5 linked regions of the Homo sapiens genome follow. The protein of the gene in region 3 interacts with the protein of the main gene of each other region in a pairwise test. Each region holds a gene or a part of one and is shown on either strand. Other genes may lie near its edges.

Region 1 (6,224 bases), on a different chromosome or scaffold from region 3:
CCTGGCTTCGCGGGAGGTGGACGGCTGGCGGCAGCTAGCCCTGCGCAGCGGCGACGCGGTCTTTTTGGTGAACGAGGGCGCAGGGTCTGGAGAGCCGCTGTACGGCCTGGATCCGCGTCACGCCGTGCCCAGCGCCACAAACCTGTGCTTCGACGTGGCGGACGCCGGCGCTGCAACCCGGGAGCTGGCAGCGCTGGGCTGCAGCGTGCCTGTCCCTCCCGTTCGCGTGCGGGACGCGCAGGGTGCCGCCACTTACGCCGTGGTCAGCTCGCCTGCCGGCATCCTCAGCCTGACCTTGCTGGAGCGCGCTGGCTACCGCGGACCCTTCCTACCCGGCTTCAGGCCCGTGTCCTCTGCGCCTGGCCCCGGGTGGGTCAGCCGCGTGGACCACCTGACCTTGGCCTGCACCCCCGGCAGCTCCCCCACACTTTTGCGCTGGTTCCACGACTGCCTGGGCTTTTGCCACTTGCCGCTGAGCCCAGGTGAGGATCCCGAGCTGGGCCTCGAAATGACAGCAGGGTTTGGGCTTGGGGGACTGAGGCTTACAGCCCTGCAGGCCCAGCCGGGCAGCATTGTCCCCACTCTTGTTCTGGCTGAGTCCCTTCCGGGGGCGACGACACGACAGGACCAGGTGGAGCAGTTCCTGGCCCGGCACAAGGGGCCAGGCCTGCAGCACGTGGGGCTGTATACGCCTAACATTGTGGAGGCCACTGAGGGGGTGGCAACTGCTGGAGGCCAGTTCCTGGCTCCCCCTGGGGCATACTACCAGCAGCCAGGAAAGGAGAGGCAGATCCGAGCTGCAGGGCACGAGCCTCATCTGCTTGCTCGACAGGGGATCCTGCTAGATGGTGATAAAGGCAAGTTTCTGCTTCAGGTCTTCACCAAGTCCCTTTTTACTGAGGACACTTTCTTCCTGGAGCTGATTCAGAGGCAGGGGGCCACTGGCTTTGGTCAGGGCAACATCAGAGCTCTGTGGCAGTCCGTACAGGAGCAATCTGCCAGGAGCCAGGAAGCCTAAGGATGCCCAGGGCTGGGTGCAGCCAGCTGTCCTGCAGCTCTGGGGAGACCAGCACAGAACTGAGGAACATCTGCAGGAGGCCCAACTAGTGAAAGGCTTTGCCTCCGGGGGGCAGGTGTGACTTCCATTTCATCAGTGCCTGCCAGAAGCTGTGTCTCTCATTGGGCTCCAAAGAGGTGGGATTTTTTAAAACTAAAACATTTCTTATATACAGTCTATAATAAATATGTAAGATACAAAGAACAATAAAAGAATTACACACTAGGAAATAGAACATAACCAATACTTTCGAGTCCTCCCTGTGTCCCGCTGTGATTCTATTTCCTCCCACCCACTCCTCAAATCCTGTCATTATTAGCCCTTTGCTTTTCTGTATTGTTTCACTCCGTATGTAACATAACCCTAAATAAATTATTTCGTATTTGAGGTAGGAATTTAAAACAGAACAAATCTTCTCCTGTGCTTCCTCTCCCCCTAGGGAGCGACCACTCAGGTGGGGAGGGGCTGGGTGAGAGTTGAGCCCAACTACCTACTCCAGAGTGATGCCACCACTCCAATTAGAGCTGACCTGAGACGTAAACAGAGGGTGTTGTGTGTCAGCCACTGGCAGGTTCTCCCTGTAGCTGCCTTGCCTTTCTCCTGGGGGTTGGAGGGCAGATCAGTCTGGACAGAACACCCCCACTCCAACCCCATCTGCCCGGGGCTGGCTGGGAGTTCAGCCAGAGAAAGTCAGAACCAAGCAGAACGTCACCACTTTTCTGGGTCCCTCCCTCAGATATAAGGGGTGAGGGGGCTAGGGAGAGGGTGGAAGGCTGTCCAAAATAGCTACAAAAGGGCGGGCGTGGTGGCTCATGCCTGTAATCCAAGCACTTTAGGAGGCTGAAGTGGGAGAATCACTTGAGGCCAGAATCACCTGAGTTCGAAACCAGTCTGAGCAACATAGCGAGACCCCCATCTCAAAAAAATACAACATAAAATAACTACAAAAATAAGCACTTTACTAACAACAGGATTCTCAGGGAATGGGGGCTTTCAGAGGTGTCACTGGGCTGCACTGTTGAGGCTGTGTGCATCAGTGGAGATGTGAGACCGAAAGAAATTATCCAGGACTTGCTGGCCCATGCGGGGCTTTTTCCGACTGCACGGAGAGGACACCTGGGACCTTTTGGAACCCTGTGAAAAAATGGAAGGAGGGAGGCCTTGTAGTTGGGGGAGGGGGAGCAGAGAATCCTCTCCTTGTCCTCTCTCCCTTTCCCCGACTCTACTGATCTAGCTAGGCTTAGCCTGGAATGCTGTAGAGCTTTCATCCTGCCTCAAGTATCTGCCCCATCAATCAACCCTCCAAAAGGCTGCCTGAGGGAATCGAATTGTCCTAAAAATGCAAATCTGACTCCTCTCTCCTCCACCTAAAATGAGTCAGCAGCCTAGGGCTCACACCCTGACTGACCCAGCAGGCCCTGCTGACCTTTCCAGCTAAACCAACTGCTCACAGCTCCTTGAGCACTGCAGCCTGCACTGGGCTCCACCTTTGCTCACACTACTCTTGGGACTGGAAAGAACATCGCTACGGTTGATTCCCCTCCCAAACCTGAAGAAAAGGATTCATTTCTAGGACGAAGATTACCAGCTGCTTCCTCCAAACAGCCTTTCCTGATCCGTCTCCCAATTAGAACTGATAGCTCCCATGGATGGGTGTGGTGGCTCACGCCTGTAATCCCAGCACTTTGGGAGGCCAAGATGGGCAGATCACTTGAGGTCAGGAGTTCGAGACCAGCCTAGTCAACATGGTGAAACCCTGTCTCTACTAAAAATACAAAAATTAGTTGGGTGTGGTAGCAGGCACCTGTAATCCCAGCTACTTGGGAGACTGAGGCAGGAGAATCGCTTTAATCCAGTTGTGGGAGATTGCAGTGAGCCGAGATCGGGCCACTGCACTCTAGCTTGGGTGACAGTGAGACTGTCTCAAAAAAAAAAAAAAAAAAAAAAAAGAACTGATGGCTCCACAATTCATATCCCACAAAACTCAGTACAGGCATTTCACACACCTGTGACACTGGAGAGTCCTCATCATTTTTTTCCTTTCCCTCTACCCTGCACCCCACAATGGAAGGTCTCCAGGTCAAGAACTATTCCTCCCTCCAGTGAAGCCTGGAGTGGAGAATGTTCACCCAGACATTCGTTAGTTAACTGACTAAAAACCTATGGACTCAGGCCTGGGGAGACACGGTTGGGAGAGGCCTAGGAGACTTACCATACAGGTCCCTGGCTGTTGGCCCTGATACACACGGAAAACCTAGACAAGAAGACAGGGAGGTGAGGGCTGGCACTTTTTGCAAAAGAGATAAACCGGTGTTCTGCCCTTAACTTCATGTCCCAGTACTTTTGTTTAAAATATGCTTTTTTGGCCAGGCATGGTGGCTCACGCCTATAATCCCAGCATTTTGGGAGGCCAAGTCGGGTGGATCACTTGAGGCCAGGAGTTTGAGACCAGCCTGGCCAACATGGTGAAACCCCATCTCTAAAAATACAAAAAATCATGGCTGGGTGTGGTAGCTCACACCTGTAATCCCAGCATTCTGGGAGGCTGAGGCGGGCGGATCACTTGAGGTCAAGAGTTGGAGACCAGCCTGGCCAGCATGGTGAAACCTCATCTCTACTAAAAATACAAAAATTAGCCAGGCATGGTGGCGGGCGCCTGTAATCCGAGCTACTCAGGAAGCTGAGGCAGGAGAATCACTTGAACCCGGGAGATGGAGGTTGCAGTCAACCGAGATAGCGCCATTGCACTCCAGCCTGGGCAACAGAGCGATTCTCCGTCTCAAAAAAAAATGCTTTTTTTCCTGTTTACACAGTAATATATTCATGTAGAACATGTAGGAAACACAAGGAAGTACAACAAAGACAACAAAGGTAGTGCCTTTTTCATGGCGGTGGAAACAGCTGCGGTGTGAAATTCCTCCTGCGTCAGCCAGCGAGCACCTGGTGGTACGGTGGTCACTGGGGTCTGCCCTTCCAAGGCCAGCCCATATACTTGATATGTCAGCTTGATGTGAGAGAAGGTGTGGACAACCTGGAGGAAGGGTCAAGGGGTTCAAATAGGCCTGTGGATATAGCCTCAAAAGCCAACATCCTTGGCTATTCCGCTGCTCACTTACCTCCCCAAGGTGCCGGAGGTGCGTGGCTGGGAGGGGCCCAGCCCAACGCTGTAGTTCCTGCAGCAGGGCCTTGCGCTGAAGCTGCTCTGAGGGCTCCCAGGTCACGGACGGGAACTCCCACAGTCCTGCCAGCAGACCTGAGAGGGAGGGCAGCCAGGCAGGGGTCAGGCCTCAGCTGCCGATTCCCTCCATTCTCTCTTGTTACTCATGCCACTGCCCTCCACGCCCAGTATCCAGGTACCTGAGTTGGGCCTCTGCACCAGCAGAATTTGGGCCCCAAGGGCCCCAGGCTGTTCCAGAACACAGGTGGCAGAGCTCTCCTCCCTGGGGGGCTTGCGGCTGGCCTTTCTGGGGAAGTTGACCACTCCCAGGGTCTGGTCCCAGGGCTCCGAGGGAGGCAGGCACAGGTGGCACTGTCCAGTGTTGGGAGCTGGGAACGGAGATCCCCGAACCCTACTCAAGCCAAGAGGGCTTTAGGGGCCAACCTAGAGAGTGGGCTTTGGCCGGGTTCTGCAGAATCTTACTCAGGTTAGAGGAAGAACTGGAATGGGGCTTCTGACTGGGCCAGGAAGGGTTGGGGTGGGGGCTAGGTTTGGTGCTCACCACACTCCTCCACGTCAGGACTGCCCGACAGGCTCCCTGAGGCTAAGAGCTGTTCCTGCTCCACCTGAGAGGCACAGGGTTGAGTGTCATAGGGCAGAGTCACTCCTTAGGACTTCTCACTGCCCCTTCCCCAGTAGGCTTACTCTCTGGCGTGCCCGGCACAGGCTCTCCACAGGGCACTGGCTGCACAGTGGGCGCTGTGGGGTACACACTGTGGCCCCTAGCTCCATGGCTGCTTGGTTGAAATCTCCTGGCCGGGCTGGGTCCACCAGCTGCTGGGCTAGACCCCTAAAAGAAGGGAACACTGCTGTGAAGCAGAGCTCCTTTGCAGACACCCCTGAAGCACCCTTGTTACCCCAACATCCTACCAGAGCTGCTGGGAAACAAGGGTGCTGCTGGGATCAGCACCAATGGCTCGGACACGGCACAGCACCCGTGCTACGTTGCCATCCACCACACCGGTTGCCTGGCACAGAGGGGCCAAAGAGTTAGCCTGGGCTGGGAGGAAGGAGGCTGGGCACGCACAAAGTGGGGGTGGGCTGTGAGATCACCTGGCCAAAGGCGATAGAGGCAATGGCCCCAGCTGTGTAGCGCCCCACGCCAGGCAGGAGCTGCTGCAGGGTCTCTGCTGTACGTGGCATGTGGCCCCCTAGCTCCTCTACCACCTGATTGGAGTGCAAGACTCAAGATTATAAGACACCCAAGACTCCTGGGTTCCTACCCTCCTGCCATCCCCTTACCTTCCGAGCTCCCTCCTGCAGCCGCCGGCCACGAGAATAGTAGCCCAGGCCAGCCCAGAGTTGATTCACCTCCTGTGGGTAGGATCAGAGGTCAAAGAGATCACCCGTCAGTCCCTCTATTGTTCCTATTTCCCCTACCCTAGGGTGGCTCTCACCTCCAGGGAAGCACTGGCCAGGTCCTGCAGTGTAGGCCACTTCTATAGCCACAGGCAGGCAGAAAGAGACAAGGTCAAGGGTGAAGGTGGTAGAGGAAGCCTTCTCTACACCCACCCCAAAGTAGAGGCTCTCATCTGGGGTCTGACCCATGACCCTTCCCTTCCTCCCCTGGAGTCACCTGCATCCATCCGGTATAGTAGTTGATCACAGTGGCAACCTGGGTCTGCTGCAGCATGACCTCTGAGACCCACACTGGGGGAAAGGGGTTGGCATGAGGACACTGCTGACCTGCCCCTACCTGGCCCACAGCCCCCAGACCCAAGGGCCTCGAGGCAAAGTGGCCCTGCTCTCAGGAGATGTACTGACCAGCATATGCCCGCCTGTCCAGGTCCATCTCATCTTCTGCCTGTCAATGCAACCCCAGATGAGGAGTTAGGGTGGAGGGGGCTGGGTGCCTGCCTCCCACCCACTGTCCCTGCTCCTCGCCTGCCTACCCGTCTTCTCCATGGTAGGTCCCGTTTCTCTTGGTCGTACCAGCTTAGCAGGCTCCCT
Region 2 (6,224 bases), on a different chromosome or scaffold from region 3:
ATAAGCCTGGCCAACACAGCAAAACCCCATCTCTACTAAAAACACACCAAAAAATTAGCTGGCTATGATGTGCGCCTATAGTCCTAGCTGCTCAGCAGGCTGAGGCAGGAGAAATAACTTGAACCTGGGAGGCGGAGGTTACAGTGAGCCGAGATGGCACCACTACACTCTAGCCTGGGTGACCGAGCAAGGTTCTGTCTCAAAAAGTAAAATAAAATAAAATAAAATGAAAAAATAAATGTATGCAAAATCTTGCTTTCAAACCACCAAACTGAAGTATAGTACTTTAGCTCTGAGCCTATAATGCGGCTTTCTAAGTGACTAAAAATCAACACCTTACCAAATGTCACAACTCACTTTACATGCATAGAAGCAGTGGTTACCTTGGTTATCAAGCTTTTCTACATGACTTTTCAAAATTCTCCACTGTTTTCTGATGCTGTTTGTAAGCTGCTCTCTCACAGTTTCACAGGAAAGGTCCCACATACTCTCTCTGCTTAGTTCCCCGGCATCTTCTTCAACATCGGAAATAACCTACAAGCGGAGAGAGATGAAGAGGAAAGGCTAGTACCTTACAATGGCTTTAGATGCTCAGGCAAGTAGTCTTCAGTTTGATTACCAGAGGAAGCCACATCAAAATCATTTCTGTGCTGTGTCTTATGCATATATGGCCCAGTATTTAAATGTCTTGAGAAAAAAAATGAGACTCCTAAATTCAGCTCTCTCTAAACCTGAATTTGAATCCAAATACAGTTAATGACAAGAGTCATGAAGCTGTCTGAGAAGGAGATATCACTACCTGTCTAATGTGTTGGATGTTTTCACGTTATTTAACCCTCAGCTCATTACAATGTGGGAAAACCGAGGTTTAGAGAAGCAGCATTACAACTAAGAGGCAGAACTGATATTTGACATTAGATCAACTTGTTTCTAATCCTAGGCTGCTTAAAGAAATGCACTTGTGAAATAATCTCTGAAGTATTTAATAAAAGCAACTGTTAATTCTATTTTCCTCATATACTTTTTTATATAACGGGAGATACTTTTCTTTGTATTCTGCCAAACATGAAATCATAAAGAAGTAGCAAACTTTACTGATATATGATCACACAGAATCAAAGCAGGATAAAGAACATGGGGAAACAATACTAAAAGGGATATATGTCATAATAACCCACATCTACATAAAGTAGTTCTAATTTGTCATTAATATTCAGGAAGGCAGAGAGATATACTTCACTAATTTGAACAATAAAAATCTTGCTGGGGAAAAAAGAAAGATAAAAGATGAAAAGAAAGAAGGGCTGATTCGACTGCTCGCACATGGAGATCAGCAGGATGAGGGAGCAACTGAGTCTGAAGAACTCTATCAGTAGTTGAGGTCAGCAATGGGCTAGCAGAGGTCAGGGTCTCTGAGGCGGAGCAGACAGGGGAATGGCCCAGGATCCGGCTCATGGTGATTCTAGCCCCTGCCAATACTCAAAAGCTACTTGCCAGTAACTCTTCCAAGGAAGCACAGCTTCTCTTCTGAACATTTTAAAGCCTATTAGAATACTACCAATCTGTTAGAAAAATTATTGGCCGGGCGCGGTGGCTCATGCCTGTATGTAATCCCAGCACTTTGGGAGGCAGAGGTGGGTGGATCATGAGGTCAAGAGATCGAAACCATCCTGTCCAACATGGTGAAACCCTGTCTCTACTAAAAATACAAAAATTAGTTGGGCGTGGTGGTGCATGCCTGTACTTCCAGCTACTCAGGAGGCTGAGGCAGGAGAATCACTTGAACCCGGGAGGCAGAGGTTGCAGTGAGCTGAGATGTCACCACAGCACTCTAGCCTGGCGACAGAGTGAGACTCCATCTCAAAAAAAAAAAAAAGAAAGAAAAATGAATAATTATTGCACATTTCTCAGATTGAACAGAACTCTCTAACCACAAAATGAAAATAAAAAATTCGGCTGGGCACAGTGGCTCATGTCTGTAATCCCAACACTTTGTGAGGCCAAGGTGGGATGACTGTTTAAGCCCAGGAGTTCGAGACCAGCCTGGGCAACAAGACCCTGCCTCTAAAAAACCAAAAAACAAAACAACAAACTCATTTTACCTGAATTTTCGGTATATGTTTTACAAGTAAGTAGGTCAAATAATAAATGAAATGTGGATGCTACCTAGGCATTCCAACATTACATCTTATTTCTCTTGCTATAATGCTTCAAAAATCTTTCCCTACAAAAATTAAAGAGAAAAGGGAGCTAGAAAAATGGATCTTTTAAAACTAGAATATATATTTAAGAGGTCATTGTTCATCCACTTAAACATGTGAATTATGAAGAATTATACAGGATACTACCCACTGGCTGAGTAATGGGGGTGAGGAGGGTTTAATCACTGAAGAAAGATCTCCCTGACTTACCACATACTTTTGCTAACTGAAATCTGATGATGAGACGTTAAGGTTGGACCAAAAACTGAAGATGCTGCAGTAGTAATGGACACTATGCTAACCTTGAAGAAGTATTAGTGAATGCTAAGAACTGACTAGAAGTGACAGAGTTTGAGATAAGAGGTTAACTACATATAAGAGGTCAAGCAGGCCTCAAAATGGAGAATGTAAAAGATATTCGGGAATTTGAGACCAGCCTGACCAACATGGAGAAACCCCGTCTCTACTAAAAATACAAAATTGGCCGTGGGTGGTGGTGCATGCCTGTAATCCCAGCTACTCTGGAGGCTGAGGCAGGAGAATTGCTTGAACCCGAGAGGCAGAGATTGCAGTGAGGTGAGATGGTGCCACTGGACTCCAGCCTGGGCAACAAGAGCAAAACTCTCTCTCAAAAAGGCCAGACGCAGTGGCTGACGCCTGTAATCCTAGCACTTTGGGAGGCTGAGGCAGGCGGATCACGAGGTCAGGAGATTGAGACCATCCTGGCTAACATGGTAAAACCCCGTCTCTACTAAAATACAAAAAAAAAAAAAAAAAAAAAATTAGCCGGGCATGGTGGCGGCTGCCTATAGTCCCAGCTACTCAGGAGGTTGAGGCAGAGGAATCACTTGAACTCGGGAGGCAGAGGTTGCAGCGAGTCGAGATTGTGCCACTGCGCTCCAGCCTGGCAACAGAGCAAGACTCCGTCTCTTAAAAAAAAAAAAAAAAAAAAAATTTAGGTAATTTTTTTTTTTAAATGTTAAGGAGAAAAAAAGGTAAGTGCTGGGATGGGCTTATCAGCTGGACTGATTTGTGATACCACAAAATAAATAATCCTCAAATACAGGTTTAAAAAACAAGTTCTGGTATCTTGCTGTTAACTAGCATTTTCCATCAACATTATTTTCAGATTTTTATCACTAATGTGAACTTGCTGAAACCTACGATTTTAACTTATACGTAAAGCAATTAAGTAAAATGAACTTTTCACCATTATGTGATTTTTTTTTCAGATCTCTGCATATATTACTCCCATTCTCTGGAATGCTTTCTCCATGTTTTTTTTTTTAACCTCAAAAATACTTATTTTCTAAGAAGCAGTGAAAATGTCACTTTCTCTGTGATGCCTTGATTGCCATAACTATTCTGTTCTGCACATTGTACCACCTTATTACAGCACCTAACACATGTAATAATCACTTCTCCACGTCTGTCTTTCCCAAAAAGAGCTTCTTGAGGGAAAAAGTCAAAATCTTTTTAGCCTTTCCTTTCCAGAGACTAGAACATAAAGAACACCCAATAAATTTATATTTGTTTCCCAAAGTTAACAGAAGTTTCACTCTGTGAAAAGTAGAGTACATAATACTAAAACAACTGAAAGGATATTTGACATAGTGGTTATGATTGTGAGCTCTGGAGTGAGAAACTTGGATTCAAATCCTAGCACTGTCATGTGTGATACTGGGCTACTAAATATTATGCCTTAGTTTCCTTATCTATAAAATGGGGATATTTATAGTATCTAAATCATCAAATTATAATATATGAAATAATCTCATATGTTATGAGGAATATTATAAAATGAGACAATGCTTATAAAGCACTTCTTAACAGTGCTTGACATGTATTAATTCCCCGGAAAATCATCTCCAGCATTTTTCAGGAAATGTCTGAAAACACATAGGAACAGTCTTTTCAGTTGTCACAGTAATTGAAAGTAGCATAGCAGTTGAGTGTCCTATTCAAAATACCAATAGTGTCCCCATTGAGAATGCCTACCACATATTTTAATTATTCTTATTAGCAATCTGAAGACTGTATTAGAGAGGAAAGAGCCACTTACAGTTCCTGTACTATCATCTACTCTTTCTCTAGGTTTCTTCTTTTGGGGAGAAAGAAGAGAAATCATTTCCTTTTTCATTTGTTGAAGAACCTTCTTAAGTTCTGCATTTTCCATTAGGATTTGTTTCTGACGATATTCATAATCATTCAAGAGAATTTTATACATTTCATCTTCATTCCTGAGAAAGAAACTGTCAGTATGAAAATGCAGGATAGAAGGAAGTCTGATTACATTTATCAATTTAAACTGGACTTTACCTGGCTTCAGTTTTACCAGTCCTCCAGGAGCCTCTTTTTCCATCAGCTCTCCCGACATAATTCAAAATGTCCATAGCTACAAACATGAACACATAAAATTAATTCTTACCATACATGCTTAAGCATCTAAAACTCTAATGCATTCTATACACGTAAGTGGTGAAAGTGAACCTGGTATATAGGTTAGGATTTGGGCTTAAACAGCCTAATTTTCGAGTTTCTAGTTCCACCACTTGTAAGCAATGAGATCTCGGCACATTATTTAACTGCTTAGCCTGTTTCTTCTTGGACACTGGGAATAACAAAAGTATCTACCAAAGAGTTGTTGAGAAGACAAAGAAATAACTATTAAAGCACCCAACACAGTAGAGTGAACACAGTATCTGGCGCACAGTAAGTACTTAATAAATGTTACCTTATCATTATTAATTTCATTATCAGGGTTGCCTGATAATGGCCCACAGGCTGGCTGCCTGATTTTGTAAATAAAGCTTTATGGGAACACAGCCACATCTACTTGTTTATATACTGCCTATGGCTACTTTTCTTGTTACAATGGCAGAGATAAGTAGGTGCAACAAATAAGTTGTAGATCCCATAAAGCTGAAAATGTTTACTATATGGATCTATACAGAAAAAGTTTGCCATGTCCTGTTAACATTAACATCATCATTTTCATCAAAGGAGTCAAAGCCCCTGATAGTAGTAATATCTTCTGCTGCAGGTGGACATGGAAACATTTGGCGTAAAAAGGAAAAAGAGTAAATTATTATAATCTTAGAGTTAATAAAATCATTATGAAACTGTCACTTCCGATTGGACCAGGAAACAGCCAGACCGCTATAATGGAAGAGCTCTGTTTCCAGAACTAAATCCTTAATAAACTTCTCTGTGTTACACTTTATACTTTCAGCATTTCATCCTGCTTTTTAATTTTTTTCCTTCATGAATGAATATGAGGCTAACTAAACTTAAAAACCAATGATTCTCCAAATGAGTAAGATTAACTCAGGATACCTAAAGATTTCCAATCTTAACGGCGCATTACTGAATCTTCATTTCTATTTTTCAACAATTTAAAAAATAAAGTATTCAGATACCTCCAACAGCTCTGCTGCAGAATGACAGTGATGTAGTCAACACTAAACTGCTTGCTGACAGCAGGCAGAGTCTACCACATGACAGCCTGAAACGTACGCTCATCGCCTGTTTTTCAAATCTAAGGTAAGACAGTTTAGGGGTGTCACGGTATAATGTATGTTAGAGGACTACCTATAGTCACTAGGAAACCACTCTTCAATAAATAAATACACACACTTCTTGTGCCTCGTATTTATACCAGGCCAGCAAAACTGTATTGTAAAGCTCTACTTTCGTGTTTCTTTGCTTTTTAATTTACACTATCTACTTGAAATTATCCACATATTTGGATGAAATGGCTTAAAGTTTTGAAAAAGACTACTATTAGGAAAAAAGTATACCTTAGACACACACACGCCTAACTTTTATAGTCCATCCTTTTGACTAGCTGCTCCAAAAATGTACAGCTAAACTTATTTAAAGGAACTCAAACTGACATGAACGATTTGGTCTGATGAAAAATTTTATGAGGTTTACTCTAAAATACTTCTTTTGATACTCAGAAACTGACACTGATTTTTAATATTATCAGTTCTTTGCTATGGAAAATTAGAATGTCCTCTG
Region 3 (6,224 bases):
TGTATATATATTTTTTGAGACAGGGTCTTGCTCTATTGCCCAGGCTGGAGTACAGTGGTGTGATCATAGCTCACTGAGGCCTTGATCTCTTGGGCTCAAGGGGTCCTCCTGCATCAGCCTCCAAAGTAGCTGAGACTACAGGCACACACTACCATGGCCAGCTAATTTTTTAAATTTTTTTTAGAGACAGAGTCTCGCTATGTTCCCCAGGCTTCCCCTTGTATTTTAATACTTACCCATCTTCTAGCTTTCCTGTCTTTTTCTCTCCTTTACTTTCTTTCTCATATGTCGTTTCTGTTGTCCACCCCTCTTGCCCTTTTCTCTTTTACTCATGCACACACACTTAGACACATTCTTCTTGCTCCTTTGCATTAAAAATGTATCTATTCCAACTTTATTCCATAACTTTTTGCTCACACCTGCCTGTGGGTTCTTAGCCTTCAACGTGGGTTCGACCTTAATATAGAACAGTTTACAAAGCCTGTAGTCAGCCACGTACTTGCCCAGCTCCTCCATGTACAGTGACAATAGAGCAGTGGCCATTTCCTGACCTACCAGTGACCATACAATGGACCAGCAAATTCACATGGCAATTTAGATCCCAGTTGCCTGGTTTTTATCACTAGGGTTAGGCCAAGTATGAGGATGCAAAATTCTTTGACTAGTTATTTCTAAACTACCAGGTCTCCATTGCCCTCATTTTAGGAGGAGGGAGATTGAGGATACCTGGAATTACTGGAATTACTAAGTTATTTCATCATGATCATCAAGTAGTGTTCTTTTCAGACAGTTGTAATTATGAAGAGAAGAGATTTGGGTGGAAAGAAACAAAGCAACACGTAAGTCAGGCTGGGTGAGTCATGATTGGGTTTTGGTTTTTTTGTCTTTGTTTTAATATAATTTTTTTGGTTTGGTTTTAGGAATCCATTTATCCCCAGGTGAATTTCATAAAGAAGTAGAAAAGTTTTTATCTCAGGCAAATCAAGAACAAAGTGATACTATCCTTCTTGATTGCAGAAACTTCTATGAAAGCAAAATAGTAAGTAAAAGCCAGAACTGAGTTCTCTGAATTGGTAGATCTCCCCATTCCCACAGTGTGGTATATTTCCCAAGGGGACCTTGTGTGTGCCCACCTGTGGCCACATGGATCTCCTCCCAGTACTGGCAGCTTCAGAGAAAACCCAAGTCCTAAAACTCAGAAATCTGGTGAGAGAGTCTAAGAAAATATGAATTAAAGGCATCCAGGCACATAATATACTTTGTGACTCCCATGAGCCTGCCTTTGACATGTATCAAGGATCTTGCAAAGTTGCCTTTGGGCAGCCTCTCCAGTTCCCCTGAGGACCCTGGGAAGGTGACCCACAGCCCACAGCCTCGGTTTTAAGTTGAGATCTTGAAGTTGAAAGGTCAGAGTGGGGATGAGATTAGCAACTGGCAGGGGCTTCTTTGCTAAGTAGGGTTTGTTGGGTACAAAAAGAACCTTTGTTCCTACCAGGTATGTTTTTCTGATAATTTTCCTTTTGTTGCTCCTATGTTACAGGGACGATTCCAAGGCTGCTTAGCCCCAGACATCAGGAAATTCAGTTACTTCCCTAGCTACGTTGACAAAAATCTAGAACTTTTCAGAGAGAAGAGAGTGCTGATGTACTGTACCGGGGGCATCCGCTGTGAGCGGGGTTCAGCCTACCTCAAAGCCAAGGTGAGCCACCACCCCGGGGCACTGTGGGCATGGCAGTGAAGGAGGCAGCTCCACCAGCAGCTTACGTGGAGCTGTCCGCTGCCCCCAGTACTCCCCACCCCCAGGCAGCCAAAGCATGCCTTCACCCCTCGTATGGCTCCAGCATGGAGTTCGTAAGTACAAAATCTGAGGGTCTTTAATCTCAAGATATGAAAAACACTTAACAGTCATAGAGACTCATCAGATGTAAAAGGGAGAGATTAGTTAACATCTCCCTTTTCCTGATCCTTTTGCTTGATCCTGAGAAGAGCAAATTCAGTAACATTACATGTCCCAACAGGTGTCTTCCTATATTTAGGGGGCAGCAAAAATAGTTGGGCTTCCCAGGATCTAGAGGGTGAAGGCCCTGCCTGCTGTCATCACCCATCCCCCTAGGAGGCAAGATCTGGCCAGTTGGTGCCTTGACCCCTTGGTCAGCAATTCCTCAGTGTCCCGCAGTGGGAGCCAGGAGCCCCTGACTGATAGCAGCGGCCATGAGTCCTCTACGTCAGCACTCCTCGCCATGCGCCGTTCTTCCGTGAGCATCTTAACAGGTCTCTGCTGGCTCTTCAGATTTCCTGTTGTTTTTCCACACCTAGGGAGTGTGCAAGGAGGTGTTCCAGCTCAAGGGTGGCATCCACAAGTACCTGGAAGAGTTTCCTGATGGCTTTTACAAAGGGAAGTTGTTTGTTTTTGATGAACGCTATGCTCTGTCCTACAACAGTGATGTGGTGTCAGGTAGGTCAGCACAGGCTCAGAGCCCAAACTGAAATGAAGCACATTGTCAGTTCACTATTCTAGAAAAATGACACAGGGAAGACAGGCCAGTGCTCATTACTGAGCACTGAATAAGCAGGGAAAATAAGTACATTGTGCCACCATTTTCCCAGCTGTGGAGCTGAGAGAACCCTAGCCCAGGAGTCAGGAGGCCTGGGTTGGGATCCTGGCTTCACCATTGCTAGCTGGACAAGCCCATTAACATGGGGATCATCTCACCTGCCCTGCCTGCCTGTCTACCTGCCAAGAGCTGTACTACTGGGCTAATTCAGGGCTCTTAACCTGGAATTGGTACATAGATTTCAGGGATTCTGTGAATTTGGATGGAAAAATAATTGTATCTTTGTTTTCAATAACACCTCACTAAAATGAAGCATTTCCTTTAGTTATGAATGTAGGCAACAAAGTACCAGTTGTATTAATGTACCTGTGACTTTGTCTTCAGTAGGATTCACAATACTTTCATATCATGTTCTAGTTGCCTCAGATATCTCAAAATAGTATTTATACTCATCACTGCTTCAAAATGAAAATAGTTATTAGGCCCACCACTAAGAGTTGATATATAATGTGTTAATAAATGGCACGTCTTATTATATATTACAGATTTTGAAAAAGACTTTGATATTTTGTATTTCTGTATAGTTGGTTTCCTTTGTAATCTTACATATTTTATGCATTTAAAAATATTTTTCTAGGTCAGGCACAGAGGCTCATGCCTGTAATCCCATCACTTTTGGAGGCCAAGGTAGGAGGATCACTTGAGCCCTGGAGTTTGAGACCAGTCTGGGCAACATAGCTCACTATGTCTCTACAAAAACTTTTTTAAATTAGCTGAGCATGGTGGTGTGTACCAGATACTCAGGAGGCTGAGGCAGGAGGATTGCTTGAGCCCGGGAGGTTGAGGTTGCAGTGAGTTTAAATCATGCCACTGTACTCCAGCCTGGGTGACACAGCAAGACCCTGTCTCAAAAAAGTTTTTCTAGGCCAGGATCTATAGTCTTCACCAGACTACCAAGTAAATCCGTAGCACACATGATTTTAGGAACTCATAGCTCTCTGTGGACCCAGGTGGCATGCACATTTGAGTAAGATTTGCGTTTGATTGTCCTCTCCTACTTTCTTGGTCTTATTTTCATTTTAGTGGTTTTGAGTTGTCTCTTATTGATCACTACTTCGATCTGTTTTGGAGCTAGATGGAGTATAAATTCTAAACAAGTAGAAAGAGTAGATTTGATTTTACAGAGGTTATATTGGCTGGACTCGATGGGTACCTGCGTGTGAGTATGAAGGAGAGAGGGAAGGCTCAGAGGTAGCTTAGATAAGCAAGGTAAGGAAAAGTGAGGAAGAATGATGTTATCAATAGTAACAGGAGGTCATCAGGGAAAAACAGGTGAAGAAGATGGTGTGAGTTTTAGGAATCAGATGGTCAAGTGCCCTAGCAACAGCAGGAGAGACACAGGCCTCGGGGAGAGGGGTGTGGACTGCGCATGTTCACTGTAGGTGGGTTATCGCCTGTATTTAGGTGTGTTGTCCCCCCTGGAAAAGGGAACAATCAAAGAGGAAAAGACCACTTAACAAGGGGGTTGGGAGGTAGTTGGCCAGCTTTGGAATAGCTGGTGAGAGAGAGAAACTTTCATTACCATCTAGTTACCACCTGTTCTCTAGATGGGAAAAAGAAAAAAAAAGTCAGTAAATACTGGAAGCAGACAGTTACCAGAAGTCACCCCCACAAAAAAATAAGCTGGGTGGTGGGGGTGGTGGTTAGTTGTTGTTGCTAGAAGACAGAAGACTTACTATTTGGAAACCTTCCCCGGGTTCCACAGGATCTACGAGATTCTAGTCAGCAAAGGGAGCAATGCCTGTCCACGTGTGTGTGAATGTATGTGTTTATAATGATGGCTTTTCCTTCCTCCCCAGAGTGTTCATACTGTGGAGCCCGCTGGGACCAGTATAAACTCTGCTCTACTCCCCAGTGCCGCCAGCTCGTTTTGACCTGCCCTGCCTGTCAAGGACAAGGATTCACAGCCTGTTGTGTCACATGTCAAGACAAGGGGAGCAGGAAAGTTTCAGGCCCTATGCAAGACAGCTTTAAAGAGGAATGCGAGTGCACAGCCCGACGGCCACGCATACCTAGGGAACTCTTGCAGCATGTGCGACAGCCTGTGAGCCCAGAGCCAGGGCCTGATGCTGATGAGGATGGGCCAGTGCTTATGTGAGCAGCACCTTTGGCATTTTCCCAGGCCCTCGGTAAAAGTAGGTTTGGGGTGACTATACAGAGAAAGCATGGCAAGACTGCAGAAACAGAGAAATCGGGAACTTCAGTTCTGGCCGCTGCCACCGTGGCAGCCGTCTACACTTCACAGCGGGAGGGGAGGAGTCACGTTGTCTACCACTTACCTGAGACATTCTGATTTGGATGATGCTAGAGCACAGAAAATAGGTGAGCTGCATGGGATCCCAAAGCTGCTGAGGGATAGAGCCTGAGCCTGGTGGCCACAGCATATGCCCTTTCTGTTCCATGCAGCTGGGGCTGTTAGTAGTCATTGCCCTTGTCAGCAGACCTTCTACCCTGGTGGCAAACACATGAAAGCTGTGGCCCTGGGAGTGGCCTCCTAAAACAAGCCACTTAGGTCATCTGCCATCTACCCTTAACCTCTGTCTCTCGCCTGAGGGGAATCTGCAAGCTGTGCATTGGGCTTACCTCCTGCTTTTGTAGAAATAACCATCCTTTGGTATACATGGAGGATAGTTCCAGAACGCCTGAGTATACAAAAACCCAATGCATACTCAAGTCCCACAGTGGGCCCTACAGAACCCACGTATGTGATAAATCAGCCCTCCATGTACGCAGGTTTCGCCCCCTGCCAATACTGTATTTTCAACCTGTATGGTTGAAAAAAATCCATATATAAGTGCAGCCATGCAGTTCAAACCCATATTGTTCAAGGGTCAACTGTATAGTTTATTGAACAGCCACACCCATTCCTTTACACATGATCTATGGCAGAGTTGAATAGTTGCAACAGACACTATGTGGCCTGCAAAATCGGAAATTTTTACTGTCTGGCCTTTTACAGAAAAGTTTGCCAGCCCCTGATCTAGACCAGCAGCTCATCTGATAGAGGCAGAGGTGGCCTTAAAGATGTGGCCTTCTTCATTTTCTGTTGGTTTGGTTTCGTTTCTATGAGAGATTTCCTCTGATAGCTCTGCTTTCCCCAGCACTTACTCTCTGAGCTTTTAAATGTTCTCTCTGGGAGCTTCATATAAGCTCGGTGACATTTGAGCCACAGTTTTTAGATCAGCACCTGGAATACATGACACATTCTTACTGAGGTCATCCAGCACTGCCATGGTGGCTGCCCAGTCTTCTGGCCAGTGTGCCAGGCACATGTCCCTGTCACACAGGTTCCAAGAAACACATACGCAGCCATGCATAGACCAACAGATTTAATATTATATTGCAGTTTTCAGCGATGCAGAATGCAGCTGCAATTGTGTTTTAAGGAGAAGCCAAATGGGGATGGTTGTCCCTGCAACATGGTGCCACTCCTGGGCCATGTGCAGCCTCAGTGGACACTCTTCCATAGCGCTGAGGCCCTGGCCCCGCCTCCAGTTACCCTGTACTGCCCACTGCCTTACAGTTCAGTGCGCAGGCCTTCACCTTTTCATCACCAGCCTCTCTGCTCAGTGCTCTGGAGTTCTTGACCTTGTCCTTTATCATGAGATT
Region 4 (6,224 bases), on a different chromosome or scaffold from region 3:
TCTAACATTTCAGGGGCCAACAGAAATAATTATGAGCTGCCTTCTAACCAGAAGAGTGGGGCAGAAATAGCAATATCATGGGTTCCAGAATGGTCAGTACCATTTTTTCAGAGTCTACATGACTTCAGTGTATCCAGGTGAAAACAAAAACTGTTCATCTTATTACTCAGCTGTTGAGCCAACATGTTACCAAGCGTTAAGAAATTTGGAAGCACTAGAAGGAATTTTTATTTCTTACTTGACATGTATATGTTGTAGGCCATGCCACTATAATTAAAATAAAATTTACTCTTCTTAAGGCCCCACAACAAAAAAATGGACTCTGCAAAAGTTTAGCATTTAATGAAGCTGTAAAGTAAAATTAGCAAATTATATTTTCTAATATTTTTCTGTTAATGAGAAGTCCTCCCTTAGATATAAGTAGTAAGTCAACTTGAAACAGTTTTGTTTAAAAAAATAATCTCATAACTTTACGCAGCCAGTTGAGGTCCTATGACTGTTTTCTAAGATAATTTAAGGAGAAAGGTCAGTCAAATCCATGACAGAATAAACATGAATCTTTTTACATCTTTCCTTTTTCTTAAAAATGTGCGTTGTTGGTGAAAATGTAAATTAGATAGCCATTATGAAAAATGGTTATGTAGCTTTCTCAAAAAACTAAAATTAGAATTACCATATGATACAACAATCCTACTTATGGGTATATATCCAAAGGAATTGAAATGAGGGTATATAAGAGATATCTATACTCCATGTTAATTGCAGCATTATTCACAACAGCCAAGATGTGGAATCAATCACGAATGGGTAAAGAAAATATGAGATATATATATATATGTGTGTGTGTGTATATATGATATACATACACACACACAATGGAATACTATTCAGCCTTTAAAAAGAGTAAATCCTGTTATTTGTGATAACATAGATGAACCTACAGGATATTATGCTAAGGGAAACATGCCAGGCACTGAAAGAAAAATACTGCATGATCTCACTTACAGGTAGAATCTATTATAAAAAAGTCAGACTCATAGAACTAGAGAGCAGAATGGTTACCAGAGGCTTGGGAAGATGGGGCGTGGTAAGGAATGGAAAGATGTTTGTCAAAGGGCACAAGGTTTCAGTGAGAGAGAAGAAATAAGCTTTTAATATCTATTGCACAGCAACGTATATATCAAAATTGCTAAAAGAGTAGATTTTAAATGTTCTCACCACAGAAAAGAGAGAAGTATGTGGTGACAGATATGTTAATTAGCTTGATATAATCACTCCACGATGTATACATACATCAAAACATGACATTGTACTTCATAAAAATATATAATTACTTGTCAACTTAAAATTTAAAAGATTTTTAAAATGTACATTATTTCTACAAAAATTATTTTCTCATCCCCAAAAATGAATAAGAAGAAGAGAGGAAGGAGGAGGAGGAAGAGAAGGAAGAATCCACCTACCTGCTACTGCAACTTTTGCTGTCCGACTAATAATTGAGCCAGAATCTCCTAAAGATGCCTCACATTGGTAAAGTCCCTCATCTGGCTTGTGGTGTCTGGAATGAAGTATGTTTTGTATCAGCAGAGACCCATTTGAAAGTTGCTGCTTCCTTTCATCCATTCCCAAGGCCAGATGAATGCCATCTTTCTTCCACTTGATCACTGGAACTCCTCGGTCGGACTCCGCGGAGCAGTCGAGGAGGACATTTCCTCCCCGCATTGTGACGGCATCAGAAGGTTCTGAGAGGAAGCGCAGTGCTGTGAAAGCTTTAATTTGAAAACCTGGAACAAGAGAGCACAGGGAAATATGTTCATGTATTCAAATAAATCTCAGGCTTAGATTCCCTGTCTTTTCTTTACAAAGCTTTTCACAAAAGCTGAGGGCTTTGAACAATGTCCAAGAATAAATAAAAACTAAAATCAAGGATATTATGTTAAATAAGCAAAAAAGTACCCAGTCGAGGTAATCATAATTAAGAAAACAATTGGCTCCAAAAGTTAATATTATGAGAAATTACAAATTCATATAAATCCTGGCATGCTTATTACCACATATCAGTCAGTACATGAAAATTTAGACAGAAAAAACTAATATTTTCCAAATAAAATTAGATATTTTAAAGTAGCAATAGTTATTAGTGTGGTAGCTAAGACTTTTGGGGAGACTATTTCTATCTCTTCATTCTGATTATGGCATCCATTGAAATTTTTAAAAAATCCAATCTGATACAGGGTTCTATAAGAATAAAAGTCAACTCTGAACAGCATGGGCAAAGTTATTTAGGACAAAGCTCAGGTGGGTTTTAAAATAGGTAAATCCCACTGGCAGAAGCAAGTCAATAAAGCTACTACCTAAAATCACAAATCCCTGAAGGGTCTTAATTTTCATCCAAATGTTTCTCATGGGCTTGGAAATCTAAATAAATATTACAGTTGAATTTGTTTCATAAACGTAAATGAACATAAAGAATCAACCAAGGGTAATAGAAATTCATTTAAGAATCTTGAGGGGAGGAAGCAAGTATAATCAGTTAAAGTATATTGTTTTTGAAGCTGGCAGTATAGCATTTGACAGAATACTCACATGTTGAGTCAAAGACCTTGACAAGGTTTCAGGAGGTCATTGGCTCCACCATTTGCTCAGACAGGTGTATACTTAAATCATTCAAGTCAAATTACTTTCAATTTCATTTTGAACAATCTTTGGGGCTAGAGATTCTACAATGTCCCTCGGTATCTTGTTTTCAATATTTAATCATTTTAAGAGTCTAACTGAATTTTCTTGCTGATGTTTAATCCCATTTTCTCCTGAAACACCTTGTGTGAAAATGCAGAAGAGATGGACATTTTCTTTAAGAGCCCTTTATTTGTTTGAAATGGCATTTCATTTCTTAAAAAATACCACCTAAATTATGTTTTAGTCTTCATTTTTTTTTTCCACGATAGCAACCTTGACTTCATTAGCTTCCTTCATTTTTCTGTAATGGGAACACTTTTCGTTGTACTTTGTAAAATCATTCCAATCTTCTGTCATTTAAAAGGCAGGCATCTAAATTGCAGGTAATCCATATTCTCATAAGGGGTTAACTCATACTGGTCCTGATGGACAGAACTATTTCTATCTTTGTACACCCCATTTTACAGTGAAGAGAAAGCAGAACAGCTTCTTACGGTTTCTCCCTGGTTTTATTTGCTTCGTTCCTGCATACTCAATTTTTCTAAAACTTACGTTTGAAGTCTGTTATTCTGCCCAATGATGTCTTGTGTCGCTCACTGTCATATATTCATTCCTTTCACCTTGGCCACTCACTCAGAAAGCATCTGGAACTTTGCTTGAATTAATATAAATTGTAAAATAATGGTGAGCACATAACTCTATTATAGATGGATATTGATAAAGATCCCAGATGACAGCAGCCTGGTGTCTTTATTTTCAAATAAGCTCCTTCTCCCCACAGATCCTTTTGGTGTAGTCAACCCAATTATAGTACATCCTGTTCTTCTAGTGGGAAGTACATTGAATTGGCTGTCTGGATATCTAGCCTTAGGTCTTGGTTTTATCACTTCAAAATTCATGACTCAGAAAGGTCTTTTAAGCCCTCAGAAACTCAGTTCCTTCATCTGCAAAAATTAAGAAGTTGAACTAGATGATCTCTAAGTTCAACATCTAGTTTGGAGGCTTTTAGAACAAGATTGAATTGAGAGCATCTGTCAAATGAACCCTGCTCTAAGCTTGCTGAATCACTTAAGGCTGATTTTGCTGAAAATACCTTTCCCATGTCTACGTGATCTCTTCCTCTACCAGAAAAGAAACACAAGCTAGCAAACCTGGCTTGAGAAACACTAAGGATGAGACAGCAGAAAGAAGTTCTAATGTCCTTGAATGCCAAGATATTTCGCTAGAGTAATACCCACAATTTCCATACAAGTAGCATTAATAAAGAAGAAATAAATTTGAAATTCAAGAGCAGGCAACTATATTAGAAAGCATGTATTGCTTTTTTGTTCTTCCTGGGGCCTATATTTTAAACACAACCTCATGTTAAGCACCTTATTTATGTCACAGAACACATAATACATTTAACACAGCTGTTTATGACAGCATGTTAATGAGCATATGTGCCCATTATCACACATAAATAATCCACTTAGTCTGAAACAAGGAGATTATGACAGTTTTCAGTGCTGTGAGTACATAGATCAACTTTAACACAATTACCCTTGCAGTTCAATGGCAATTTGAGCTTTTTGTACTCTTTATAACAATTATATTTTGAATATATGGCTTTGGGATATAGGCACCTCACTGCTTTAAGTAACTTGCATTAGTGATTAGTTTTATAGAAAAGATGGATCCTGGTGAATCAAGTTAATTGAGAAATAGTAGATATGATTCTATTGGTCTCCTTTTCTAAGTTTCAGCTCATGTTAGTGACAGTGGCAGGAGGCAGACAAATTCCCAGGCAGACAGGGGTGGGTCCCCAGTGAAACCCAACCTTCAAGCCGAAAAAAGCCTAAAGCCTGAAAACTGGGCTGCTGGTTCTGAATGGAGTCTGTGACCAGAGTGAGAACTTCTGTTCCTGTTTGCCTGTTCTTTCCTGATTGGTTCTTTCTGAATAATTCTTTTTTTTTTCTTTTTTTTGGGCGATGGAGTCTGGCTCTGTCTCCCAGGCTGGAGTGCAGTGATGCGATCTTGGCTCACTGCAACCTCCGCCTCAGGTGACTCTCCTGCCTCAGCTTCCCCAGTAACTGGGATTACAGGCATGCGCCACCACACCTGGCTAATTTTTGTATTTTTAGTAGAGATGGCCATGTTGGCCATATTTGGCCAGGCTGGTCTCAAACTCCTGACCTCAGTTGTTCCACCTGCCTCAGCCTCCCGAAGTGCTGAGATTACAGGCATGAGCCAATGGGTCCAGCCTGAATAATGCTTTTTAACCAATCAAATATTGCCTTTTCCATGGCTACCTACAGGCTGCACCTCCCACATTCTGAGCCTATAAAAACTCCAGACTCAGCCACACCTGGGGACTACCCACTGCAGATCGCCTCTCCGCCCAGAGATGTTCTGTCACTCAGTAAAACTTTTCTCCACCTTGCTCACTCTCCAGTTATCCAAGCAACCTCATTCTTCTTGGATGCAGGACAAGAACCTGGGACCCATTGAACATCAGGTGCAAAAGGAGCTGTAACACTGTAGCCCTCCAGCCCTCCACTGCTGCCCGAGTGGCCACCCAAGACGACAAGAAGCTGCAGTGGGGCCGGGCCAGCCCAAGAGCTGTGGGCCAGAGTAGTGCAGCAGGACTGAATGAGCTGTAACACAAAGGAGCCGAAACACACTCCTGCCCACCCCTTGCCCCGTTCACTGTGCTGCATATGGCAGGAAGGAGAGAAGAGCTGCAACCCTTCTGGAGGTGCAGACCTTGGGACTCCCGGAGCCAGAGCTCTGACACACCCTTGTTTGCTGGGCTACGGGAACAAACAAACGGTGACATGCTGTAACACCCTTTTGGGGCTCTGTGGTTGTTGGCGTCTCTAAGTTTTTTGGGTGTCACCGTGTTCCCCCAGTCCAGACACCAGCATCGAAGGCAGAATTTGCTTGCAGTATGCCTGGTCCAGCTGCCGCCTCACAGGGAACCAGCGCCTGTGCCGGCACCTAAAGCTGCCTGCCGCACTGCAGCAGCTGGCGCACCTGGCTCTGTGCGGTGGTGGCTGGATTCCGCACTCACTCACTCACACACCCCTCACCGCTCCATGCCTGGCACGCCTATGGTGGGCGTGGGATCAGGGGTCGTAGCACGAGCCGACCGCAGCCTGTCAGACTGAGTGGGCAGAACCAGCTCAGCGGCCAGCTCGGAACCCAGTGAGGCCCAGGCAGGAGCGCTGCGTGTTGTGGAAGATTTCCGGCTGGCGAAGCGGCACTGAAAAATACCGTGTCATTAGGCAAGGCTACCTTTAACTTCCTTGTATTGCACACAGGACTAAGAAATGTCCCACGAATACATTACATTGACATCAATTTAGATAAACCCCCTCAACCCTTTCTCTTAGTGTACTGGTTCCATTTGGAGAGATTTTGCCCACCAGTATATAATTTCTTAATATAAAATAATTTTATAAAATGACTTCATCCAAGGATTAATCTTAAATCAACTACGCTGATTTAATGTATGAAGAGAGGAAGACAGAGATGATAAAACTGAAGAAGACAAGAAGTAGAAA
Region 5 (4,534 bases), on a different chromosome or scaffold from region 3:
CCCAGGCTGGAGTGCAATGGTGTGATCTCGGCTCACTACAACCTCTGCCTCATGGGTTCAAGCGTTTCTCCTGCCTCAGCCTCCCAAGTAGCTGGGATTACAGGCATGCACCACCATGCCCAGCTAATTTTGTATTTCTGGAAGAGACGGGGTTTCTCCATGTTGGTCAAGCTGGTCTCAAACTCCCGACCTCAGGTGATCTGCCCGCCTTGGCCTCCCAAAGTGCTGGGATTACAGGCGTGAGCCACTGCGCCCAGCCTAGGGGAAGCATTTTCATATGGCTGCCGCTCTGCCTGCCAGGACGACCACAGCAAGCAGAGCCCCACTCTCCTGCAATGCACACACCATGAGTAAGAAACAGGCCCTATGGCTTGAAGGTGCTGAGATCCGAGGCTGTTACCAGAGCACGACCTGGCCTGGCCTGGCCTGAGCTGCATCTCCACAGCTGGAGGCCTACATTCGGTGGTGCAACTCAATGGGATTAACAGACATCCCTGAGATGAAGGCCAGAGGAAACAAAGACACCAGGGGTCTGACTGCAGCAAAGAAACCAGAGCTGAGCGAGAACCAGGACAACGGGCACAAGAGAGACCAGCAAAGCAGGCGGGATGGCCTGGGAGGCTCCTCACGACCTCCAGCTCTGAAGCCAAGAGACTACAATTCACACAGTGCACTGGCTGTAAGCAGAGGGGAAGACGCCACGCGGTCTCCAGGCCTCAACCTCAGCACAGAGCGGCTCATGCAGTGCAGGGCCCCCTGCCGCCCCGGCACCTCATCTCTGAATTCACCTTGAGCGCCTTGCCCTGGAGCTCATCGATGATTCCCCGGACCTTCCCCAGCAGGAAGGGCCAGGAGTTGATGAGGTAGATCCGGTCCATCATGATGGTGATGATGCTGTACCAGCGCTGGAAGCCCCTGGCCAGGCTGTCCTTGATGAAGAAGGTGTGGCTGAACACAAAGCCGTGCTGCTCATCTCCGAAGAAGATGGGGCCTTCACGGCCAGGGCAGACCTGGAGGGACACCGGCGACTCAGACAGCCCTTTCCTCGCTTAGTGACACCAAATCAAAGCCTCTTCTTCAGACTTTTCAGAGTCAGCTGGCACAAATCAGCCAGCGTTAATAACGGGGAGAGTGGCACAGTGGGGGCCATGAGAGCCGAAGACTGTACTCTTCTGCTCCTGTGATCAAGCTTCCAACAACACTTGTCATTGTGGACTGCAAGGGCCGGTAACAAGGCTTATTGCTTTTCTTCCACCTTGAGCCATAAATAACTCCCATGCATATGTCACACCTCTCCCAGACTCAAATGTACCAGCTTACTCACCTGGAGCATGCAGAAGAACCAGCAGGTCAGAGCAGCCACTGCACTCTCCCTGCACTGAAATCCGCACATTTTATTCTTTCTTTCTTTCTTTATTTGAGATGGAGTCTCGCTCTTGTCACCCAGGCTGGAATGCAGTGGTGTGATCCTGGCCCACTGCAACCTCCGTCTCCTGGGTTCAAGCAATTCTCCTGCCTCAGCCTCCTGAGTAGCTGGGATTGTAAGAGTGTGCCACCACGCCTGGCTAATTTTTTTGTATTTTTTTTAGAGAGGGGGTTTCACCATGTTGGCCAGGCTGGTCTCGAACTCCTGACCTCAGGTGATCTGCCGGCCTTGGCCTCCCAAAGGGCTGGGATTACAGGAGTGGGCCACCATGCCCAGCCCCACGTACTTTATTCTTATAAGAGGATTTCAGTCCCTCCTCATTACATACTTACTCTTCCTTAACACACAATTCTAACAGACATGCCGAGCTGCCTGCTAGCAGACCAGCGGTAGGAAATTAAAAGGAGAGGACAGTTGAGGGCAGGCACACAGCCACACTGAATGAGAACAGTAAGGGAGCTTGGTGTGTCGAACTGGGTGGACACCAATGACAAGGAAGTTTAGTAACTGAACGACGAATTCTTTGTAACAAAGACCTGAGCTCAGAGTCAAGAGCAACAGCAGCAGCGACGTAGTTTAGGAAGAAATCATCCACACCTCAGCAGGCTGAGAGCAGCACGGGATCATCACTGAGACTTGGAATGAGGACTGAGATAATAAAAAAAGGTGATGTTGATGCAATGAACCACCTAACCTAGAAATGCTTCCTATCTTAGGAATACATCCATCAAGAATAGACACACATGGCTGGGCATGGCGGCTCACACCTGTAATCCTAGTGCTTTGGGAGGATGAGCCAGAGGATTGCTTGAGTTCGAGACCAACCTGGGCAACATACTGAGACCTCATCTCTACAAAAAAATTTTAAAAAGGTGGGGCACAGTGGCTCCCACCTGTAATCCCAGCACTTCGGGAGGCCGAGGCGGGCAAATCACAAGGTCAGGAGTTCAAGACCAGCTCGGCCAACATGGTGAAATCTCTTCTCTACTAAAAATACAAAAAATTAGCCGGGCATGGTGGCACACGCCTGTTGTCCCAGCTACTCAGGATAGCTGAGACAGAAGAATCACTTAAACCCAGGGTGGAGGTTGCAGTAAGCCGAGATTGCACCACTGCACTCCAGCCTGGGCAACCGAGTGAGACTCTGTCTTAACAACAACAAAAAACAAACCCCAGTTGAGCATGGTGGCACACACCAGTGGTCCCAGCCACCTGGGAGGCTAAGGCGGGAGGATCGCTTGAGCCCAGGAGTTTGAGGTTGCAGTGAACCATGACGGCACCACTGCACTCCAGTCTGGACGACAGAGCGAGACCCTGACACAAAAGAAGGAAAAAAGAAAACAATAATAATAAAGAAAGGACAAATAATAAAAGTTCGGTGCTTAAAGTGCAAAAGCTAGCACTCAATCAGAAAATGCTCAGCAAGTCCAACATGACTCCTCCCGCAATTCTGGACAAGGGAGGCGTCCTGTACCCTGTGCTGTGCTGATCTGCGGGTCCGCCCTGAGAGAGGACCAGTGCCTGCCTCCCTGTGCAATGCTGGCTCCGAGCCCACCCAGAGCACCTGGGAGCATGTGGGCTCCCACAGAGACAGGCTCTGTGGCCACAAGGCTCACCTCACAGCTCAGGCTCCGGACACAGGCCTGGCGGACAATGCTGAAGAGCTGGGGGTGGCTGGGGTGCTGGTGGCTGACGTATTTAATGGAGGTCTCTTTATCATGGCTGATATATCCCGGGTGCCCTGCAGCAAGTGACCGGCAGCCCTGTCCATGAAAAGGAAAAGTAAATCTGTTAGTTGGGAAGCAGGGCGACAAACTCTCTTAGGTTTATGCAAATCTGAGCTCGGAAAACTCAAGCTATTTTTGTAAAAAAATAATTGGCTTCCAGATTTATACTTATCTGAAGATTTAAATGTTTCCTAAAGAGGAAAACAGAACACAGAGATCGCAGAGATTGCCAGAGGTTGTTCCTAACAGGTATTTGCTGAGCACTTACGAAGTAGGTAACATGAAAAGGGCCCTGCATGCTCCATCTCATTCAATCCCAAGTGCCACCCTCTGAGATAATGTCAGTGAGAAGCCCCATTCTACAGAAGACAAAACTGAGGCTGAAGTGAGAAGTAGCTGGCCCGAGGGTGAGGGGCTCTGTGGTGGTAACACTACCCACTGCCCCCAGCCTCCATCATTGGTTCTGAACTAACACCTGGAAGGGGCTTCAGCCACAGGCGAGAGGCCCAATAAATAGGGCGAGCACCAAGCTCCAGGATGTTGGTGTGGCAGCTCACCACTGCTGCCCCGCTGCCCCGCTGCAGCCACAGCCACTCCGATGCTGAGGCTGTGCGCCCTGGAGCTGCTCCTACCCCAGGACTGTGCGGCAGTGCGTCAGCAAGACTCTCCCCACAGTGTCGCAGGATTCCTCCATGGGCAACCCCAAAACCAGCTCAAGGATGCCCCAGCAGCCTGGCGGTGCCCTCCTTCCCAGGTCTGAGGTGCTCCCCATCCCCCATTCCTTACAGGCAATTCCAGCAATGGATGCAGCTCTTACACGTCCTCTGCTTCTGCAGCAGAACCAAAAGAACAAGCTTGGGTTCCCGTTTGCACTGCAGTGGCAGGTCCAACACCCACCCCTGATTTTGGGCCCTGACCCAGGTCCTCCACAAAAACAAGTGGCCCACTGGGGAAAACTCACACTAATTCCCGAGAGTTCAAGAGCTGATGGAGTGACCCACCGAGAACACTGGGGGTCCTGGGAGCAGGAAACTCCACTGGGAGCACGGGACTTTGGGGACCCGCCTCCAGGACAGGCTGGAGTGTGTGAATACAAACATGAAGGCCACGGCAGGGAGGCAGAGTGGGTTAAAGAAGTTAACATAGGCTGGGTGTGGTGGCTCACGCCTGTAATCTCAGCACTTTGGGAGGCCGAGGCAGGTGGATCACCTGAGGTCACGAGTTCAAGACCAGCCTGCCCAACATGGTGAAACCCCATCTCTACTAAAAATACAAAATTAGCCAGGCGTGGTGGCAGGCAAGTGTAATTCGTTATTCGGGAGGCTGAGGCAGGAGAATTGCTTGAACCCGGGAGGCAGAGGTTGCAGTGAGCCATGATCAC

The links.
Region 1: the proteins of TSTD2 (region 3) and MUTYH interact in a two-hybrid assay, tested with the Homo sapiens proteins (one large-scale study listed by BioGRID and IntAct).
Region 2: the proteins of TSTD2 (region 3) and SSX2IP interact in binary tests that used the Homo sapiens proteins (3 or more experiments, as listed by UniProt).
Region 4: the proteins of TSTD2 (region 3) and DCC interact in a two-hybrid assay, tested with the Homo sapiens proteins (one large-scale study listed by BioGRID and IntAct).
Region 5: the proteins of TSTD2 (region 3) and FLCN interact in a two-hybrid assay, tested with the Homo sapiens proteins (one large-scale study listed by BioGRID and IntAct).

Annotation. Positions count from the first base shown.
Region 1 is NC_000001.11:45,327,247-45,333,470, forward strand, and holds the end of MUTYH (adenine DNA glycosylase), read right to left. Parts: coding exon 6,167-6,224; intron 6,079-6,166; coding exon 6,039-6,078; intron 5,925-6,038; coding exon 5,851-5,924; intron 5,714-5,850; coding exon 5,672-5,713; intron 5,589-5,671; coding exon 5,517-5,588; intron 5,442-5,516; coding exon 5,328-5,441; intron 5,243-5,327; coding exon 5,145-5,242; intron 5,065-5,144; coding exon 4,920-5,064; intron 4,841-4,919; coding exon 4,777-4,840; intron 4,604-4,776; coding exon 4,415-4,603; intron 4,311-4,414; coding exon 4,174-4,310; intron 4,089-4,173; coding exon 3,936-4,088; intron 3,312-3,935; coding exon 3,270-3,311; intron 2,823-3,269; coding exon of another isoform or gene 2,820-2,822; exon of another isoform or gene 2,643-2,819; intron 2,192-2,642; coding exon 2,060-2,191; 3' UTR 1,996-2,059; downstream 1-1,995. Other genes in the region: HPDL (4-hydroxyphenylpyruvate dioxygenase-like protein), read left to right, coding at 1-1,018. UniProt on the Homo sapiens protein: Involved in oxidative DNA damage repair. Initiates repair of A*oxoG to C*G by removing the inappropriately paired adenine base from the DNA backbone. Possesses both adenine and 2-OH-A DNA glycosylase activities.
Region 2 is NC_000001.11:84,657,935-84,664,158, forward strand, and holds part of SSX2IP (afadin- and alpha-actinin-binding protein), read right to left. Parts: intron 4,597-6,224; coding exon 4,521-4,596; intron 4,442-4,520; coding exon 4,264-4,441; intron 535-4,263; coding exon 384-534; intron 1-383. UniProt on the Homo sapiens protein: Belongs to an adhesion system, which plays a role in the organization of homotypic, interneuronal and heterotypic cell-cell adherens junctions (AJs).
Region 3 is NC_000009.12:97,600,958-97,607,181, reverse strand, and holds part of TSTD2 (thiosulfate sulfurtransferase/rhodanese-like domain-containing protein 2), read left to right. Parts: intron 1-920; coding exon 921-1,039; intron 1,040-1,540; coding exon 1,541-1,699; intron 1,700-2,316; coding exon 2,317-2,455; intron 2,456-4,414; coding exon 4,415-4,713; 3' UTR 4,714-6,224.
Region 4 is NC_000018.10:52,747,614-52,753,837, reverse strand, and holds part of DCC (netrin receptor DCC), read right to left. Parts: intron 1,785-6,224; coding exon 1,464-1,784; intron 1-1,463. UniProt on the Homo sapiens protein: Receptor for netrin required for axon guidance. Mediates axon attraction of neuronal growth cones in the developing nervous system upon ligand binding. Its association with UNC5 proteins may trigger signaling for axon repulsion.
Region 5 is NC_000017.11:17,223,134-17,227,667, forward strand, and holds part of FLCN (folliculin), read right to left. Parts: intron 3,190-4,534; coding exon 3,043-3,189; intron 1,379-3,042; coding exon of another isoform or gene 1,325-1,378; intron 1,011-1,324; coding exon 789-1,010; intron 1-788. UniProt on the Homo sapiens protein: Multi-functional protein, involved in both the cellular response to amino acid availability and in the regulation of glycolysis.